Linked DNA regions of Homo sapiens: all the other regions are reported to be linked to region 2. The links are microRNA targets in miRTarBase. Many come from high-throughput screens and were not tested one by one. Region 2 holds a microRNA gene; each other region holds the end of a gene's coding sequence.

Evidence for each region. Region 2 holds the annotated microRNA hsa-miR-3614-5p (CCACUUGGAUCUGAAGGCUGCCC, at 3,152-3,174, opposite strand). A microRNA usually pairs through its seed, bases 2 to 8, with sites in the 3' UTR of a target mRNA and lowers its output. Matches are read on the target gene's strand: a 7mer-m8 pairs with bases 2 to 8, a 7mer-A1 pairs with bases 2 to 7 and ends in A, and an 8mer does both.
Region 1: the mRNA of HEATR3 is a reported target of hsa-miR-3614-5p. Seed matches in the 3' UTR shown: 7mer-A1 at 1,255-1,261.
Region 3: the mRNA of CALN1 is a reported target of hsa-miR-3614-5p. Seed matches in the 3' UTR shown: 7mer-A1 at 1,539-1,545.
Region 4: the mRNA of B3GNT6 is a reported target of hsa-miR-3614-5p. Seed matches in the 3' UTR shown: 7mer-A1 at 3,672-3,678.

The regions. Positions count from the first base shown.
Region 1 is chr16:50,104,550-50,109,690 of GRCh38, forward strand. It overlaps HEATR3 (HEAT repeat containing 3), which reads left to right. Exons shown (of 15, transcript NM_182922.4): 15 at 390-2,723. The coding sequence ends at 512. Among named protein-coding and RNA genes, the nearest start is that of HEATR3-AS1, 41 kb to the left of the region's middle.
Region 2 is chr17:56,888,168-56,893,311 of GRCh38, forward strand. MIR3614 (microRNA 3614) reads right to left here and starts at 3,188; the gene lies at 3,103-3,188. It overlaps TRIM25 (tripartite motif containing 25), which reads right to left. Exons shown (of 9, transcript NM_005082.5): 9 at 1-4,062. The coding sequence ends at 3,533.
Region 3 is chr7:71,783,082-71,788,229 of GRCh38, forward strand. CALN1 (calneuron 1) reads right to left here. Exons shown (of 7, transcript NM_031468.4): 7 at 1-4,821. The coding sequence ends at 4,694. Among named protein-coding and RNA genes, the nearest start is that of MIR3914-1, 480 kb to the left of the region's middle.
Region 4 is chr11:77,039,699-77,044,846 of GRCh38, reverse strand. B3GNT6 (UDP-GlcNAc:betaGal beta-1,3-N-acetylglucosaminyltransferase 6) reads right to left here. Exons shown (of 2, transcript NM_138706.5): 2 at 2,874-5,148. The coding sequence ends at 4,141. Among named protein-coding and RNA genes, the nearest start is that of ACER3-AS1, 6.6 kb to the right of the region's middle.

The sequences.
Region 1 (5,141 bases), not on the chromosome of region 2:
CTTTATACCTTTGAGAGAAGAAAAACAATTAAGTATTATTACCATAGCAATGCATACTAACTAGGAAAATCAATCTGAACAGCAGACCTTTCAGAGGTTAGGGGTTATTTTCCCAATTCATGGTTTACATAATTCCTTTCTATAGTTTATATAACTCCTACCACCTGCCATTCAGTCACCTTTGTAACTATCATTTTTAATAATGCACATTCTCAGTTTATTCTTTACTTACCGAGTTCCATTTACCTTGGAAGTAAAAACATTTTTTCCAAATTCTTACAGCTATCTGCTTCAGCAAATGGTTAAATACACCCTAAATTAAATACTTTATTTAAATGAATTAATCATATCTACCAAGTCATATATGATTTTTTGTTTTTTGTTTGCAGATACGTAAAGAAGGGAGAGGTAACTATAGCACAGATCAGCTGTGTGTTCTTGACAATGTGAAAATGAATTTGCGAAGATTTATTGCTTATCAAGAAACTGTTGAGAAAAGACTGACTTCTTAAACAATCCAAAAAAGAAACCAGTTCTTCCCCCAAAGTATTCAATGCTTAGAATACTAAAAGGTTTTCTTTGAATGTATATGTTTCTGAAAGTCATTTTTTAATGATTACATTCTGTACATTCTGTAAAAACTTCAAAACCTGGCCAGGCATGGTGGCTCACGCCTATAATCCCAGCACCTTGGGAGACCGAGGCGGGTGGATCACTTGAGGTCAGGAGTTTGAGGCCAGCCTGGCCAACATGGTGAAACCGCATGCATAAGCATGGTGGCACATGCCTGTGATCCCAGCTACTCGGGAGGCTGAGGGAGGAGAGTCGGTTGAACCTGGGAGACAGAGGTTGCAGTGAGCTGAGATCACGCTACTGCACTCCAGCCTGGGTGACAGAGGGAGACCCTGTCTCCAAAAAAAAAAAAAAAAAAAAACTTCAAAACCTGTCAGAAACTCTGTTGCTGGTTTTTTTGTGTGTGTGTTTTGTTTGTTTGTTTTGTTTTGTTGTTTTTTTCTTTTTTGAGATGGAGTCTCACTGCTGCCCAGGCTGTATTACAGTGCTGCGATCTTGGCTTACTGCAACCTCTGCCATTCCAGGTTCAAGCGATTCTCATGCCTCAGCCTCCTGAGTAGCTGGAATTACAGGCACCCACCACCACACCTTGTTTTTGTTTTTGGTTTTTTGGTTTGTTTTTTTTTTTCAGTAGAGACGGGTTTCACCGTGTTGGCCAGGCTGGTCTCAAATTCCTGACCTCAAGTGATCCGCCTGCCCTGGCCTCCCAAAGTGCTGGGATTACAGGCATGAGCCACCGTGCCTGGCCAGAAACTCTTTTTTAAGTGATGAGATCTGTGTGGCATTTCTAGCGCTCTCTAAATTATGTCTCTGGCATATTTTAATCACTGGAAACTCAAAGAGTGGAAGAGTGGAAGTGCGAAGGAATCTCAGGTAGCTCTTAACTAATTCGCCAGCAGTGAAGAAACTTCAACCAATCATGTTTTCCTTGAATTTTGCAAAGAAAGAAAATCCAAAGCATTGCTTGGATGTTCTTTTAAGGCATTTTATATCAGTTGAACCTTAAACTGAAATATGAAGACAAGCTTTATAAACTAGTTTTTTGATATGAAGTATATCAATTATGTTTGCCTTTTGTGAAGAAGTAAATGAGTTGAATTTCTATTTCACTTACTAGATTATACTAATGAGCTAATGGGGTCATTGCCATCCTCCCTACTCATGACTTTGATGAGTTATTGCTGTAACATCACTTCTTGATTTAATTTGATATGGAATCAGAATTGGGAGAAGGTATTTTTAAATAAACAACTTTTTAATGGAAAGTTTTGTGTCTTACAAAATCTTTTTTAAGATACCAAATAAAGGGTTATTAGTAGAAAATGAGATGATACTATTCGTGGATATTTGTTTGCTAATGCATATTGCTTGGAATATATGTGAGACATTAAAAAAATGACAGCACGACTTTGCAGCATTACCTCTCAGTGTCTTCGAAGTACTAGGTGACAGCTGGGGCTCGAGGGAGTTTCCCTGTGCATCATTGTCTCGGCTGGGCCTCTGAACCGGCTTCATTGTCCATCCGTTTGCCTGATGAGAAGGGAAATTTGAAAATTTCTGTACAGTTGATCTCAGTTGCCCTGACAAAAGGCCCAATCCCCAGTACAGGACTTAATTTTAATTCACTGCTTCCACAGCAGCACAAAATGAGCTAGTAGTGTTAGATTTCATCTGCACTGTGATGTATTTTACAGTTTTCACCTATATGATATAGACTGTTGGGAAACCAAGATTGTTTCCCAGCCCTAAGAGTTCCTAGCCCATGGCACCAAGTAAAATAACCCAAATTGTGTATATGGTGGGAAAACAGAAATGTATACCATATACAACACCTCGCTTTATTATGGTCCTTGCTCATGAATTTTAAGGTATATATGTATGTTTAGTGATCATTTCAGCTAAATGATTGGCCCAAGCATGTCTCCTTGGAGAACGACTCTTCCAAAAAAGAAAGTATTAGAGTTCTCTCTGCCTCAATTATTTATAAAATATAATTATTTTCAAGGAGAAAAAAGTTCCTCATTCTGTTTATTCTTCCCCACAGTTTCTGACCTATAAACAATATCCAGGATATTTAGCACAGGACCTAGTATATAGTCGACTCTTCATAAATATTTGTTGAGTAAATAAATGCTGGTGATTTTCTCGTTGTTTTGTGTGTGATTTTCTGTTTTACTAAGCAAGCTCTAAAGCAGCTGTTGAATGCAGAATCATCCTTAAACACGGTAGAAGATGAGATGACACTGAAGATGTGCCATCCTAAAAATCTCTTAGATTCTGAGGCATGGATAATTGGGTCTGGATTTCTCCCATTCAACTTTACCACTCTAACGACACAAAAGAAGGGAAAACAACTCATAAATACAGCATACAGTTTTAACTATTTACATAATAACTCAATAGAGCATGCAAGTATTATTCATGGCACAGGATAATGGAGAGCTTTTTCTGTATGACCATAGGGGAAAAAAAGTCTGCTTTAAAATATACTTATTTGAAAATCACCCAGAATAGCCCGTTAGAAATACACACTGGAGGCCAAGCATTTTGGGAGGTCGAGGTGGGCAGATCACTTAAGGTGAGGAATTTGAGACCAGCCTGGCCAACATAGTGAAATCCCATCTCTACAAAAATACAAAAACTAGCTGGGTGTGGTAGCATGCACCTGCAATCCCAGCTACTTGGGAGGCTGAGGCAGGAGAAACTCAAACCTGGGAGGTGGAGGTTGCAGTGAGCCAAGATTCCACCACTGCACTCCAGCCTGGGCAACAGAGCAAGACTCCACCTCAAAAAAAAAATAATTAGCCGGGTGTGATGGCCCATACCTGTAATCCCAGCTACTCAGGAGGCTGAGGCATGAGAATCACTTGGATCCAGGAGGTGAAGGTTGCAATAAGCCAAGATTGCACCAGTGCACTTTAGCCTGGGCAACAGAGTGAGCTCTGTTAAAAAAAAGAAAGAAATATACACTGTTCAGGCATAGTGGCTCACACCTGTAATCCCAGCACTTCGGGAGTCCAAGACGGGTGAATCACTTGAGCTCTGGAGTTTGAGACCAGCCTGGGCAACATAGGGAAGCTTTGTCTCTGCTAAACATAAAAAAAATTAGCTGAGCTTGGTGGCGCACACCTGTAGTTTCAGCTACTTGGGAGGCTAAGGCAGGAGGATGGCTTGAGCCTAGGAGATGGAGGCTGTAGTGAATCATGATTCCATCCTAAGCAACAGTGCAAAACCTTTCTTAAAAAAAAAAAAAAAGGTTGGGGGCTGGGCGCAGTAGCTCACACTTGTAATCCCAGCACTTTAGAAGGCCAAGATGGGCAGATCACTAGAGCCCAGGAGTTCGAGACCAGCCTGGCCAACATGGCAAAACCCTGTCTCTACTAAAAATACAAAAATTAGCCGGATGTGGTGGCATGCCCCTGTAGTCCCAGCTACTGGGAAGCTGAGGCAGGACAATCGCTTGAACATGGGAGGCGGAAGTTGCAGTGAACTCAGATCACGCCACTGCACTCCAGTCTGGGCGGTAAGACTCTGTCTCAAAAAAAAAGGGGAGCTGGCCGGGCGTGAAGGCTCACACCTGTAATCCCAGGACTTTGGGAGGGCGAGGTGGGTGGATCATGAGGTCAGGAGATCAAGACCATCCTGACTAACACAGTGAAACCCTGTCTCTACTAAAAATACAAAAAAAAAAAAAAAAAAAAAATTAGCCAGGTGTGGTGGCAGGCACCTGTAGTCCCAGCTACTTGGGAGGCTGAGGCAGGAGAATGGCATGAGCCTGGGGGGCGGAGCTTGCAGTGAGCCGAGACTGTGCCACTGCACTCCAGCCTGGGCGACAGAGCGAGACTCCGTCTCAAAAAAAAAAAGGTGGGGAGCTGACCTGGGTGTGTTTGGCTGTGCATATGCGTCATGCAACCTGATTTTAAACTTACTGTGTATAAAGCTAAAGCAATCAAATCATATGGTTTTAGCATAAGTAAAGACATACAGATCAATGGAACAAAATTGAGTCCAGAAATAGACCCATAATTATATGATCAATTGATTTTCCACTAAGGTGCCAAGTTAACTTGATGGAGAAACAATAGTCTTTTCAGTAAATGGTGCTAGAATAACGAGTATCTATATGGAAAAAGACATACTCAAGAGTCAAAGTTTGATAAATTATTATTTATTTTTTACTAATTCATCAACTACAGTCTTGGGTGCAGCTTGCTTTGTTTTTCCTCTAAGTGCGTGATTGGGGAGAATGCAGTGATAATTAGTAGTTTGGTGCCCATGCCCTGATTCATACTAGACACCAGCAGTTTCATCCCATCACTTTAGTGTCCACAGCCCCAGTGTGCCACCACAGCAAAAAAAGCCAAGTCGCATTTAGTATTGTGAAAACAGTATTGACCTCATGACCCCCCCCCCCGAAAAGGATCTGTGGAACACACTTTGAGAACTACTGGTCTAGAAAGAGCTAGAAAGAGAAAATAAGGAGGATTGAGACGAAGTTGTGAAGAAATCTAGTAAGTGCTGGCCTGGTTGGAGAATGAACCTGAAAAGAAACACAGAAGGAGTCCCCT
Region 2 (5,144 bases):
TCCCCCGCCCCATAGGTCAGGCTGACTCAAAGCCTCAAACCTCTAATCACATGGTCAGTCTGTCTGGTGACCAGCCCCAGCTCTGAGTCATCCCACCTTTTAGCATAAGCTCAGGTGTGATCCCATGGCCTCACAAATAACAAAGACACTCCTATTACCCTGGAAATGTCAAGGACTGAAAGTCTCCCTCCCAGGAAGCAGGGACAAAGGCCAGTTCAATTCTTTAGACAACCTCCAATCCACACCTCCTGGAACTCCTACCCCAATTGAAACAAGGATAAAATCCACTGAACATGGAGGGCCCATTGCTGGCCTGAACTATTTTTGTTTCTTTTTTTTTTTTAAAGCTTTTTATTATAGACATTTTCAAACATATACAACAGTAAAATGAATAATATAATGAACCCTCACACCTCCATCCCTAGTAACTGATTATCCGTGTGTGGCTTACTCTTTGATCGATACTCTCCTGCTTTCCCCTAGCCCCCACAGTTAGACTGTCCCGCAGCAAAGCCCAGACAGACATCCTATCGGTCTGAGAATTCCTTATCAAAAGCTTCCCGAAGAGGAACTCTATATAGGGCAGGACTAAGTGTGCTGGCTATAGGTCTGCAGAAATCTCAACCCTTGGGAGCCCTTGGGTGGGGCCTGGGCAGGTCCCTGGGCAGTAGCCGTCTGTAGTGGGCGGCTCATCTGCTGACAACAGTATGACGAACAAATAGCATTTTGTACCCGCACTACAATGCAGGAGAACGCCAAACACCGCTTTATTGCATTCAAACCTTCTAAGGCACGTCAGCCAGCCCTGGCCTTGTCTACAGCCATGATTATCTCCTTAAAGAGTTAACTCTAAAAAAATATTAAGCTCAAGAAATAACAGCTCAAATACTCCTAACTAATTAAAATCAATAGTGAGAGGCAGAATACGGTAAAAGATAACATATTAGTATTATTGATCACAGATCAATTTCAGAGTACTTAAAACAGGAATAATCAGCTACCACATCTTGAAAAATACAAAGACTTGATCCTAACCTTTTATTTATCATGCCACACGGACTGAGACAGTCCCCAGTACCTGGGTCTAGGAGAGTTATTTTATGTTTGTGTTTCTGGGAATTTCCGATACTTCCCAGTGTATCAGAGTGTTCCCCTCACACATGCTAGCAGGCATCTCCCCACTAATGGAATAGCAAGAGTGGTGAACAGAGCGATCCTCTACTTTCTCATCATATTCTGCAAAATGAGAAGTCAGATGGATACAAAGGTTCCTCCAACTCTAGGACTCCAGGGTTGTGTGGCGGCCCTGCAAGGCTAGGTTATGTAAGGTCTCACCATTGCAAACAGAATGGTTCAAGACAGCAAGGATGCACTCCTCAATTTACAACTCCAAAGCACCTTGCACAGAGCTTGGCTTTGGTTACCTACTTGACTCTCTTTTAAACAGAGGGTCTTATGCTTCCCTATCCTGAGCTGCACATTTGCCAGGGAAGTGGCCTCACTGTTGCCCTCATTTCTGCAGAAGAGAGCCAGAGCAGGAGCCATGGATTTATCTCTGGCATTCTACTCCTCCAAGCCCAGCTGTTTCCCAAGTATTAATTGGTTTCAGACAAGGCTTTCGTTTCAGAAAATCAATGAAGATGCTTTTGATCATCTTCAAAAGCAGAGAAGAATCACCAAAGAACTTTTCTTCCAAGTAGTAAAGGAATAAAACTTCTAAGGACCACATATCACCTATTGCAGGGATGTCTTTCCTACAAAGATTATTGCTCTCCCGAGGAACTGAAAATCCTTGTTAGGAGATGACACCGATCAGGTATGTACCTGCATGTCAGGTGTGTAGCTGTCAGGAATATCAAGTGTTCTGAGCCTGCCTAGAGTGCCCTAGAGTTCCAGCACGAGGCCTGAGATGCATTACATTCTCAAATATCCATATGAAAAGGTCTGGGGTCTCTAGTTCCCCAATGGTGACTTCTTTTCATATTATAGGAAGCCTGACAGGAGCTCTCCTCTAAGCAAAGCCCAGAGTTGGACTCATTTCACTATAAGAGGCTAAATTCCTCATACTCACATCCTGACAACATTAGGCTATAAGGAGCTTGGGGAAAATCCAGCCATCCATTCACTCCCGCCCCTTAGTGGACTGGGTTATTTTCACCACACAGAAACACTGCAGGGAAAATAGCCACTTGTGTGACCCTCTTTAGCTCTTTCCCTCCCTCCCTGATCAATGTGAGCTTATATAATTGGCTTAAATGAGGAAGTCAGTAGAAGGGGCTAGGGCCAGCCCCAGGCTCTGACTCACGCAAGGGCCAGTGCTGGGTCTGCAGCCTGTGGCCAGGGATGAACAGGAATGTTCCTGTTCCCCATGAGGTTTGCTAAAAGACCCCTTTGGTGGTAGGTTGACACCCCAGCAAGTGGCCTAGCATGGTCCGAGGCAGCCGCATAGCCTGTCTGCATGATAGCAGGCTTCAGGGATCCAGCTTAGCTGGAGGCTTGACTGTGCTAGCCTCGGTGGTACCTGCACTGTCATTCCATATGTCACAATCCAGGGAAGAGAGGCTATCACCGAGAAGAGTTGTCAGTAAGAAGGCAGGACACTCTAACACGAGCAAACCCACCAGGCTTCTGTTGATCCAGGGCAGCATCCCCCTCGCCTGGCAGAGTTCCTTGCCCCACAGCCAAGGCTATGGGAAGCAAGGCCTCCAGCAAAGCTCATGGCTGCCACCAAAGCATCTCTGCCAAGATGCTTCTTATGATACTTAGGAAGGATTTCCACCCAAACTGGATCAGGGTCACCATGACCCTGAATCACAAATCCAACACAGGCTGATTCCAATCATGGTTTGAAGCTTTAGCTGAAAAGTTTGCTGTTTGAAAACCATCAATGTGGGGGCGATGGGTGTGCAGGGTAGGAAGGGAACGCACTATTTTCCAGTGGAGGAAGAGGGTATGCCTCTTTAGGAAACTGTTCTGGGTAGAGACTGCTGTGGGTGTTTCCTCAAGCACAGATAATAACCAGGAGATCAAGCCCCAACATGCGGGTAATGGAGTTTATGTAACATTGAAACTCAATGACTTTGGAACTTTAAAAACATCTATAGTAAGAATTCAAAACACCAAGATCTGAAGGCTACCCCAGAGAGCAAAGGGGCAGCCTTCAGATCCAAGTGGCCCAAGACAGAACCTACAGTAGCTATGGATTTTCTCTAAGAGGAATCGGGCACTCATGACTTCACTTCCCAGAGCTCTGCCCAGCTGCCCAGCAGCCTGGAGATTTCCAGAACAATGGGGAGTAGGTCACCCTGCCCTGATAGGCACCAGGGGGTGGAAACGCCTCCTCGCCCACAACACAATCACTCTCACCCCTTTCCTGGCTAAATCCCACCTCCCACCCTCCCGCCAGCTCCCCTCCCATGCTCCCAATCCTTGGGACCTCTTGGGGAATTATCCAAGGAGAGTTCTGCCTGCTGTATTTTCACTAGGGTCTTGGGACTTCTGCAGGCAGTCAGCCCAAGTGCCTACAGCCTGCCTACTTGGGGGAGCAGATGGAGAGTGTGGCACCAGCAGAAAATACCCAGAAAGCCGGGTACAAAGCCTCAGTAAAGTCCACCCTGAACTTATACATCAGGTGGACCTTGTCGGCAACAGCGAAGAAGATGACAAAGCCGTGGTCACAGTTGAGAAGCACGCCCACCCGCGTGGCCTTGGTGGAGGGCAGGGTTTTCTCCACGTTATTGTGCCAGGCAGAGATCTTGGTGTTGAACCACTCCACGCACCAGGAGGCGCTGTTGCGGCCGAGCCTGCTTTCTGGGCCCTGCCGGTTCATGCTTCCGTAGCAGATGCCTACCCCACAGAAGTTGTTCTTCTGCAGCTCCACCTCCCAGTAGTGGATCCCCTTCTTGTAGCAGTGCAGGCCCAGCACCTGAGAGCAGTATGTGAACCTCTGGGGATGCGGCCGGTAGTTCTGAGGCATCTCAGCCACAGAAGCTACTGTATAGCACTCTGACAGAGCCACTTTGTTGTGGGCGGTGTTGTAGTCCAGGATGACTTTAATGTAATCTGAGAAAACATCACCCCAAGGAATTAATTACAAGGGGCCCAAAGTGCTCTTTTAGACCTTTGCCAAAGTGGTACTATTTATTCACTAGTTTTATCCATCCATGCACCCATCTACCCATTGGTCCATCCATCCACTCATCTATCCATCTGTCTGTCTATTCATCCATCTATCTGTCTATCCATGTATCCATCAATCCATCCATGTATCCATCCATCCATCTATCCATCTACCCATGTATCCATATACCCATCTATCTACCTATCTATCCATTCTTCCATTCATCCATCTATCCACTTATCTATCCATCCTTCTGCCTTTCCATTTATCCATTCATTCATTCATTAATCTATCCACTTATCTATCCATCTGTCCATTTATCCATCCACCCATCTATCCACCCATCCATTATTCATCAGCTCATCTATCCATCCATTCATCCATCCATTCTGTCCAGCCAGCCAGCCATCTATCATCTATCAGTCATCCGTATGTCTGTCCATTCATCCATCCAAAACCATTTACCAGGCACCTGACTGACACCAGATTCTGGCACAAGATGCACAACCATGAACCAGAGAGACAAGGTGCCGGGCCTCATGGAGTTCACACTCCAACAAGCAAGGCAAGTCCATCAGTAACAACACCATGAGACTCACACTCTGCCAAAAGGGTAAGCACACACTGTAGGGACACAGAGACAAGGCAACTGATGCTACAGTTGGGGAACATTTCACTGGCAGGCTGGAATTGGAGCCAAGTAACAGAAGATGAGAACTAGACAGAGGAGAACAGAGAGAGAAAAGCTGTTCCAGACAGAGGGAACAGTGAGAGTGAAGCCACGGAGTGCCAAGGGGATTCGCATGTGCTGGGATCGGGGAAGCTGGGTGGCTGGGAACACAGATGCAGCAGGAGAAGGGAAACATGTTGGGGCTAGAAAGGGAAGGGCTTAGGAGGCTAGACTTTAACTGGTGGGCAGCAGGGAGCCAAGCGAGGCACTCATTTGCTAGGTGGCTCAGGGCATGACACTTTTCACTGGAGCCCGAGTTTCCCCCAAGGCAAAATGAATAAGCTGGGGGTGGAA
Region 3 (5,148 bases), not on the chromosome of region 2:
TCCCCTTCTGGGGCAGTTGAGCAATCAGGTGTGGAGGGAAGATGGCTATGGTAAGGCCTTTAGGTTACGGACTCTTAGCTCCATGGGGATCACTGAAGAGGCCAATGAGAATGTTCTGATTTGAGGTCTTTTAAGACAGATGTTCTTCAGGGGTTGCAGCTCTGCAGACCTCCTGGTTATACAACCAGGATGTGTGACGTGCTGAAGTCTAAAAGTTTCATCTCAGTTCATCTGTACCATCACGGTGATATAGGAAAAGGGGCCCTTCCTAGCAGGGGAATTCCAGACCCCCCCTGTTATCTTGGTGAAATGGTAAAAAATGTAATGACTATGGGCCTTTGGAGAAATAGTGTGGCAAAATGACCCAATAGGGTTTGAGACCTGCAGTTAGGAGGAGCAGAGCTTAGCAGCTTCTGCAAGGAAGGAGAGCAAGGACACAGTAAACACAGATCCCAGGACATGTGACCACACGTGGCCAGGCCAGCCCAAACCAGGGAGCTGTCCTGGGTGGTTGCATCCTTCATTTTCTGTCCATGCCCTCATAGGGCCTCAGGGAAACTGCTAGATTTAGGTGAAGAGCAACGTGCAAAACTGTCTTTGATTTATGACCTGAGTCTGGACTTAAACCGAGTACGAGGCATTTGGAATAAAAGGTAAACTTTTCTCTCTCAGTTCTGAAACATATCGCTTTATGATTCTATGAATGGGAAGTTGGGAGGGGCATTATTGTCAAAAGCAGCTGTCCATTTTTCATAGGCTCTTTTGGATAACTGCAAGATCGTAGACCATTTGTCAAGTGAGATTTGAGACAGGGCAGGTATTGAGAAAGAAGACTCATAAGACACATCTTGTTCTCTGCAAATAAAACACCCAGACATTTCTGAAACCACTGGGTTTGCCTAAGACCACACCTAAACCTCAGTTCACCAAAGTTCACGTGTTTGGCTTGCAGGAGTGTGCTCAACAGGCAAACCGATACTTTTAAAGATTGGAGGCTTAATATCTTGTTTGCCTTCCAAGATGATATTTCTGTCAATTTACCTAGATTAAGGGGTCCTGGCTCTGGACCCTGGGAGAAGGGGCTGGGAGTAGGGATGGGGAGATACCAGGGCTTACAGGTAGCTCCTGCTCTCCTGAGTAAATAGAAGGACAAGTTCAAATGCCAGACAAAAAGGCAGAGATACCACCCAGATTCTTTAAGGGTAATTGCCTCTCCCAGCAGGATACAGATGCAGAGAGTCAGGTTGCACTCAGGCTGAATTGGAGTGTTCTTTAAGAAAATGTTCCCTATTTTTGTGTGCCTTGGCAAACTCAGGGTGGAATGCAAGGGTTGCCATGGTAATATCCCTCTTTTTTTTTTGTCAGATCAGTCACGTGGGACCCAAGCACATTCTGGAAGCCATTGCTAATAGTCCCGATGCTAGATTCTGTCTGGGGGCTTTGTGGGTATCTGGAAAGGTGGGGCGCAGCTTCTTTGGGGATCAAGGGGGTCAGGGTCCATTTCCCCTTCTCTCCCAAGGAAAATGCCTTCTTGCTCATCACTTGTGCTTTCCAGGGGGGCGGCGGGGGGTACCTGCTCTTGCAGCAAGAATGAGCCAACCTGTGTTTGTCAATCACTCAGCCTCCACACAGTTGGGCAGCCAAGGTCACTGGTTCCTAAGTCCGGAGGACAGAATGAGGGGTGAGCTATTCCCTCTCAATTCCTGCGGAAGTCACTTCCAGCTGGGGCTACATGGCATCCCTTGGGCATGGGAGACCAGGACCTTCTGGAATCTTCAGCCGTGAGCTTCATAGCCACCATGATGGGGACACTGACTGGCATGGGGCCCTAGCATAAAATTTGTGTGAACAGGGCTGGGAGTTGGCTGCCTGACAAGGAAGGCTTCCCTATACCCAAGACAAACTGTCCAAGCAAAGCAGCCAGGGTGCAAGTCACCGGGACAAACTCTGAGCTCCTGAAGTCTAAGGAATGCCGCTAGCTCAGGGCCGTCTCCACGCACTGTGTCCTTCAGTCCCTGGGTGCCACATGGGGGGTTACCACAGTGGGAAGATAACTCCTAGGCTGTCAGAAAGAATTCTGTGTCTTCCTTCTTGCCATCTCTCTCTAGCAGTCTGCAGAGGAATGCATTCTCCTAGATTTTCCCCTGGGGAGGGTGGGCTTGCTTCCAGGTCACTGGGAGCAAGAAGAAGGTCACCGTTAGGAAAGGAATCCTGCAGCCTTTCCAGAAAACAGGATGGCGGCGCCTCTCCAGAACTCCTTTTCCTCCCTACTCCTGCACAGTGGCTAATCTCTCTGCCAATGAAATCTAACCCTCACCTCTTGAAGGGTCTCTGTTCTCCAGCAGGAGGCAGAAGAACTCGCAGAAAAGCCACCTTCAAAGAAGTACTCATTTTCTGCCCTGAAGACCAGCCTCAGCTGCAGCATTTCAGTCCCCTCTCATGGAGGAGGGGGCTTTGAAGAATCATCCCTGGGGTTTCTACCCAGTCTACTTAGGGTCCTGCACCCCTATGGATGTGGTTGGGTGGTTCGGGGGTCAGGGAAAAACAGGAAAGTATATCCCTTCAAGATCTGCTATGCCCTCCCATCTAAGTCCAGATGGGAGAGGGCAAACTGCCCAGGGCAGAGATTAAGGATGAAGTTGTTCGATGTATTAATATTCTGCATTTGGACCGGTTCTAGTTGAGAATTCCAATCCTAAGGGGACAGTGGTGAGTCAGCCAACAGGAGCAGCAGAAGGGGCAGGCATGCAGTGTGCAGGCAGCAGGGCAGGTAAGGGGGAAAGGCAGGTTGCTGCCTCCTTGGTCTGGCCTTGCTGGGCTGAACTCCAGGAAGTTTTGCAGAGGGACCTGTGATCCCCCAGGCTCTTGGGAGCTTACATCTGCTCCCTCCTCCATATTATGGCTGAAGCCTTAGTTTTACTTGTGCTCATCAGGAATATTCATAGTCTCCCACAGAGGGAAAGTTTCTACAGCTGCCCTCAGGCTGTTGCCAGTAGCACTTGCAGAGGTGAATGAGAAAACTTTCATTGGAGACCTTGGGTGCTCCAAGTCTGAAAAGGCAGTAGGGAGAAAGCTGAGCAGGAAGACAGGGAGGGAGATCAGGAACACACAACGCACCAAAAAATCCTACCCACTGCATAGAGACAAGAAAGCTTCTGGTGGCTCGCTACTGGAAGGGGGGAAGCATGTAGTTTTAGGATGTAATCAAAAGAAGTAGGAGCAAGGTAATTCCATTACAAAATAAAGACCTGAGCTTGGAAAAGTACAAAGGGAACTATTACATCTAGAGATTACTGGCTAATCTGACTACACAAGCTTGAATTCATAGTAGTGGCTGACATCTAGGAAAAGTCAGGAAATTACAGACTTGGAATGGTGTTGAAAACAGATCCTTGGATTCAGTTCTCTTCCCCAACGAAAAGTATTCTGCAGGCAGGAGTAAATTACCTGTTCTGTTGGCTAAACTCATAAACATCTTTTCCCCCAACCTCCTGAAAATGAGTCAGTTGCAGAATCTGAAGGCCAGAAGATCTTATGTGAAAATACAGTCGTTTGATCTCTCCATCTTTCCATTTTGGATTGCATTTCTCTTTTTAGCTGGGGAAGACTAACAAAGCAAACTCCAAGGTAAGGGAAAGGTAAGATGCACAAGGACCTTAACTTACAAAGGTCATCCGGCATAGAGACGTGGTGGGTCTCCATGACTCCAGATGGCTGGGTGTGGGTATCAAAACCTCACCGCCAGTCCCAGTCCCCTCCCCCCTCAACCTGCCTCACCCCTGCCCCAAAGAAGCAGGGATGAGTGTGGGAGGGAGGACAAGCTTATATTAGGTGTAAGCGATTAGGGAAGAATGACATCACACACGAAGAAGCCAAATATATATATCTGTCTATGTTATAGAGATGCCCACGATTATGCTTCTTTTTTTCTCTAATGGCAGCACAGGCGGCAAAGCTGGGAGAAAGGCTCTCTGCAGGTTCCAAAATGCTGGTGCGGGATGGGCTCTAGGAACAGAAAGCCAAGTGCCGACGGAAACTGAGAGCACCCCAGCTCTACCAATGGCAGTCCTCTAGAAAAGGCAGTAAGAACGGAAGCGGTGAGGGGTGCAGCTGAAGACCGCCAGGGCTGCACCCCACTTAATGGCTTTCCCCTCATGCCTTGGGGGGGTCTCCACTGGGTGGAGGAAGGAAGCCAGGGTGGGATGGAAAGCCCCCTCTTCTGTGGCAACCCTGAAGTCAGCCTCTTGGAACTGAGGGTTGACCTCAGCAGAGAGTCTCCTGTTGACCCTTGGGTTGAAAGAATGGGGAGTGGAGGTGACTGTGTGTTCATGCCTCTCTCTTGCTCTCTCACCATTATACCTGGATGGCTGCTGGAATTCCGAGATGAAGATGAAGTTTTTCTCTAGAGTTATGACTGATGGTTGAAGCAATAATTTGGAAATCCTGGCGATTTATTGCATTAGAAAACAAAACCATTAAAGCACTGAAGACAGCCCTTTAGTGTCCCTGCCAAGGAGATGAAGCTGAAGTGCAACCCCAGTTGCACTCAACCTTGGGTTCTTTACTGAACGGTTCCATCGTCCGCATCCATCCATAGTCCATAGGTCCGTGTCTGCTGTGTGGAGGAAGAGTCTGCCCGCACGGCATGCACATGCGCGGTGAGCTGCAACACAGTGTGGCTGGCGGGAGGCTGCTACTCCATGCCGCTCCGGAGTATCTGGTTGGCTGCAATCAGCATGACACTGATGATGAAGGCCATAGCAAAGGCGCATATGAGGCTCTTCCGGACGCAGGTCTGTCTGTTCTGCTTCTGGGAATGCACTGGTGGTGGGAGAAGCAGGTGTGGGAAGAAGGAAGAGGGGTTGGGAGAAGAGAGAAGAGAGAAATAACACAGTGAGATAGGTTGCAACTCTTCCTCAACAGGCCAGCAGTGAGTCCTATAGGATGAGACTGGTCAAATCAAGTTGACAGGCATTTATGGGACCACTGCCATGGAGACTGCATAATACAAAATGCCTTCTGGTGAAAGGTATGAAATGAGAAAACTTCTATAACAAGAATCATGATGGATGTGATGATCAGAGTAAGGCCTAAATTTTCTGATAGAATAGAGCCAGAGTGACTTTCAGAGCCCGGAAATATGGGACA
Region 4 (5,148 bases), not on the chromosome of region 2:
CTCAGGGTTTCCACTGATTTTACATTATGGTGAGTTGTATAATTATTTCATTATATATTACCATGTAATAATAATAGAAATAAAGTGCACAATAAATGTAATGCACTTGAATCTTCCCCAAACCATCCCCCACGTTGGTCTGTGGAAATATTGTCTTCCACAAAACCAGTCCTTGGTGCCAAAAAGGTTGGGGACTGCTGTCCTAACAGATACAGTCCACATCACTGGGACAGATGGCACTCATCCACTCATCCATTCACCCCAAAAGCATGTAGGAGTATTTGTTATGGCCTGCTCAGAAAATAGATCAGCAAGTGACAAGTGGCTGTGGCTACTGAAGGCCCACGGCAAGGGCTGCAGAAAGGTCACAGAAGTGCCACCTCCTCCTGCTTCCTTCAACCTCTCAGAGCTGCCAGTAAGCCTGCAGAATGACAGTACCCTCCTATGTGGTTTACAGAGGATTTACATGGCCCTGGCATGGAACATCACTGTGGAAAGTGTATTAGTCCATTTTCACACTCCTATAAAGAATACTACCTGAGACTGTGTAATTATAAAAGAAAGAGGTTTAATTGACTCACAGTTCTGCAGATTTAACAGGAAGCATGGCTAGGAGGCCTCAGGAAACTTACAATCATGGCGGAAGGCGAAGGGAAAGCAGACACCTTCTTCATGGGCAGCAGGAGGGCGTGTGTGCGAGAATGAGGAAGTGCCGCGCTTTAAAACCATCACCTCTCGCGAGAACTCACTATCACGACAAGAACGTGAGGGAATCCGACCCCGTGATCCAATCACCTCCCGCCTGTCCAGTCCTACGTGTCCCTCCCCTGACATGTGGGAATTACAATTCAAGATGAGATTTGGGTGGGGAAACAGAGCCAAATCTTATCAGAAAGAGCGGCTCAGAGAGGTGAGATGACCTACTCAAGTTCCAGGAGTGGGAGTGATGGGACTTGCCACGGATTCCCTCTGTGTAAATCTGTGACAGCCCTGATGTAAATCAGACATGGCCTCTCCCTCTGGGAGCAGCCAGTCTACTTGGTGAAAAACAAGGGATGAAAGGGGACACAGCAGGTGACTTAAGTGCTATGGTTGGAATGTTTATGTTTCCCCGGAATTCTTTTTTTTTTTTTTTTTTTTGAGACAGAGTCTTGCTCTGTCGCCCAGGCTGGAGTGCAGTGGCGTGATCTTGGCTCACTGGAAGCTCCGCCTCCCAGGTTCACGCCATTCTCCTGCCTCAGCCTCCCGAGTAGCTGGGACTACAGGTGCCTGCCACCATGCCCGGTTAATTTTTTTGTATTTTTAGTAGAGACGGGGTTTCACTGTGTTAGCCAGGATGGTCTCTATCTCCTGACCTCGTGATCTGCCCGCCTCAGCCTCCCAAAGTGCTGGGATTACAGGCGTGAGTCACCACACCCGGCCCCCCGGAATTCTTACGTTGAAATCCTAGCCCTGAAGGTGACGTGGTGATGATGTGATGATGGCAGAACCCTCACCAATGGAATCTGGGCCGCTGTAAAAGAGGCCGTGGGAGCTTGCTTGCCCCTCCCACCATGCAGTGACACAGCAAGAAGGCAGTGAGGAATGGGCCCTCGCCAGACACCAAACCTGCTGGGACCTTGACCTTAGACTTCCCAGCCTCCAGAACTTTCAGAAATGTTTGTAAGACACCCAGTTTATGGTATTTTTGTTACAGCAGCCTGAACAGACTAAAACACTAGCAGGGCAAGGCTGCTGTAACAGTAGACAAACCCCAGAAGCTGAAAAATCATAAAAGTTTTTGTCTATATTGTTCTGTCCATAATTTTTTTTAAAAGCATAAAAGTTTATTTTGTCTTCCTCAGTAGTCTGAACTGAGTATTCCAGGTTGGTCCCCGGGCTGCTCTGCTCCGTGCAGGAACTCAGGAATCCTCGTTTCTCTGCCTTCCTCTAGGCCAGCGGTTCTCTGCTAGGGTGAATTTTCCCACCAGGGTATGTTTGGCAACGTCTGGAGATACTTTGGGTGTCATGACTTGGGCTGTGATACTGGTATCTAGTGAGTGGAGGACATGGATGCTGCTGAATGTTTTACAATGCACGGGACTGCCCCCCACAACAAAGAACCGTCCTGCCCCAAATGTCAGTAGTTGAGAAACTTCCACTTGGGCCTGAAGCATTGTCCTCACTTGCAAAGTCAGAGCTGGGTCCCAGGCCCATCCATGTTCCAGCGAATGGGAAGGAGGAAGAGAGCATAAGCAGGCCCAGGTGCCACAGTGATCCTCATCCACTCCCGTCCATCCATGAGGGCCTAGTCACAGGGCCACATCTAACTTCAGGGGACGGAGTGCTGGGAAATGGAGTCTAGGTGAGTGCCCAGGAGGAAGGGAACAGCCGACTCAGGTGGGCAGCTGGCAGCTTCCCCGACAGGCGTCCTAACTGGTGCAAGAGACATGCAGGATGGAGGTGGTTGGAGGACATTTCGGTAACTAGGTCAGAGCTTGTGCAAAATGCAGAGACAAGAGAGAGCCTGACAAAGCGCAGGCACTGCCACCTGGATGGAGGCTGACAGTGGGAGGGAGGGATCAGTGAGCAGCAGGCGGGTGGCAGGAGCCTGAAATGCAGGACTGAGGAGTCTAGTCTTCGTCCTGAAGGCAGGGAAGGACCTTTGGCCAGTCTCCTGACGTTCTGCCCCGGCTCTTTCCTCCCTGAAGGTGAGTCCCTCGTGTCCATCTTACATAGTTGGGACCTTGCTGACACACACTTCTGCCTGCCTTTAGGCCGTTTCCTTGATTTTCTATGTTGCCAAGATGACTGGCAGCTGCTGGAGGTCAGGACCACAGCCTGGTTCTCAGAGCCCCAGGCACCAAGTTCCCACCCACCCTTGCAAACTCTCCTTTTTTTTTTTTTTTTTGAGATGCAGTCTTGCTCTGTCGCCCAGGCTGGAGTGCAGTGGCACGATCTCGGCTCACTGCAACCTCCGCCTCCCAGGTTCAAGTGATTCTCCTGCCTCAGCCTCCCAAATAGCTGAGATTACAGGCACGAGCCACTATGGCCGGCTAATTTTTGTACTCCCAATAGAGACGGGGTTTCACCATATTGGCCAGGCTGGTCTCGAACTCTTGACCTCATGATCCGACCTCCTCAGCCTCCCAAAGTGCTGGGATTACAGGCGTGAGCCACCTCGCCCGGCCCCACAATCTTAACCACTGTCCACTTCGGTCTCAGATCCCCCACCTCCCGAACACAATTCTACACACCTGCCTCCACAGGCTCCCCAACACTGGCCTCCATGTTCCCACCAGCCTTTCTCCACTTCGGACTCCCCGGAACTCCCTGCTGGGTTGTCCAAGGCCCACTGAGCCTGAGGCCCAGACCCCGGCAAGGAGCCTGTCTCTGACCCGTGGGGGTGATTATTGGCGGGCAGGACCCAACTAGGCCATTAGCTTTGGTTGGGGTGAGTGTGGAGGGGACCACAGTGGTGTGCTGTCTGGGAATGCCACGGCCCTGGATTAGTCACTGTCTGACCGGGCCTCTGGTTTCCACTTTGCACGGTGAAGATTTCTACCTCACGGTGTACTGGGGTAGTGGTGGGAAGAAGGCCACCACATGCGCCTCAGCTGCGTGTTGGCTGACTTCTTGGGGGAGGGGGAAGCGGGATCCACCTGATACTGTCAGCCCAGCTCCAGCTCCACTCACTTGTAAACAGTGGAAATCACAACTGACATTTGTAGGCACATGGCAGGGGGCGCTGATCCTGGCTCCCACGCTCCCAGGTCTCCCTTGCTCCACTGCTCAAGAGGACCCGAGTGTGGGAGCGAGGGGCCCGGAATTCTTGCAGAGAGGGCGGTGGAGCTGGCTTTGCGAGGATGAAGAGATAGTCTAGCCGAGTGGTCCTCAGGCCTAGCTGCACATTCGCATCACTGGAGGAACTTAAAAAATACTTAACATGTCTGGGTCCACCCCAGACTAATCAAATCGAAACTTCGGGAGATGGAGCCAGGATGTAGGCATTTTCCACACCCCCCACCCCAGCTGATTTCAGTGCGCAGCTGGGGTTCAGGTGCACAGAGCTGGGCAGGACGTAAGGTACCCAGAGCGGGAAAGCTGCCTTCTCAGCATGGACATGGTTGGAGGCCCGGGGCTGAAGCCGCCCAACTGGCCTCAGGAGACCCGGTGTCCCCGGTCACAGCTGAGCGCGGGGCTGTGCAGCGCCTTCCACATGAGCAGCATCTCGTAGGGCGCGAAGCGGTGCACTAGCAGCAACTCGCGGTACATGCAGGGGTCGAAGGAGGACTGCTGTGCGCCAGGCAGCTGCACGCCGAAGGGTCGGATGCCCTCGTGGCCGCTGGGCGCCAGGCCGGCGCGCTCCAGACACATGCCCATGTAGGCGTCGTCGATGGGGAAGAGCGGGGTGTGGCGGGCGGCCGCGCGCAGGGCCCGGGCCGTGGGGCCGGACAGGAGGAAGCCGCCGCCGCTGCAGTACACCGGGTAAGCGGACCCGGGGAAGAGCTGCGGCGGCACGAAGTACTTGCTCCAGCTGTCGCGGATGGGCACGGAGCCCTCCATGAGCTGGCCGGAGAACAGGTGGCGGCCGGGTGGCTGCGCCTGCAGGAAGCGGACTACGTTGGCGGTGTGCACGAACACGTCGTCGTCGCCGCTGAGCAGAAAGCGCGCGTGCGGGCAGCGTGCAGCCAGCCAGTCGAGCAAGTGCAGGTGCTTGAGCGTGAGGTTGAGGAAGGTGTCCGCGAAGGCCCACTGCAGCACGTCGCCGTGCTCGCGCGCCTCCAGCGCCACCAGCTCCGCCAGCCGCTCCGCGCGCGCCTCGTCCTCGGGGCCCGGGGTGCCCAATAGAAAGAGGCGGCGCACTGGCCGCCCGCCGTAGCTGCGCTCTTGCCCCCACGTGCGCCGGATGAGCTCGCGTCGCTCGTAGTGCTCAGGCGCCGACTTCACCGCCAGGAGCAGGAACACGCCTCGGCCGCCGGCGCACTTGGCCGGTGCGTCCCAAAGCAGCGGGAAGTGGCGGCAGTGGCGGTACCGCAGGAAGTCCTGGATGCGCGCGGGCAGCTGCTCGAAGTCGGCCGTGGCGTTCGCCGAGGCGTTCGCCACGCACGGGGGCCCGGGGACGAGCTCCGAGGGCGGCTCGTCAGCCGCGGGAGCGTCGGTGGGACC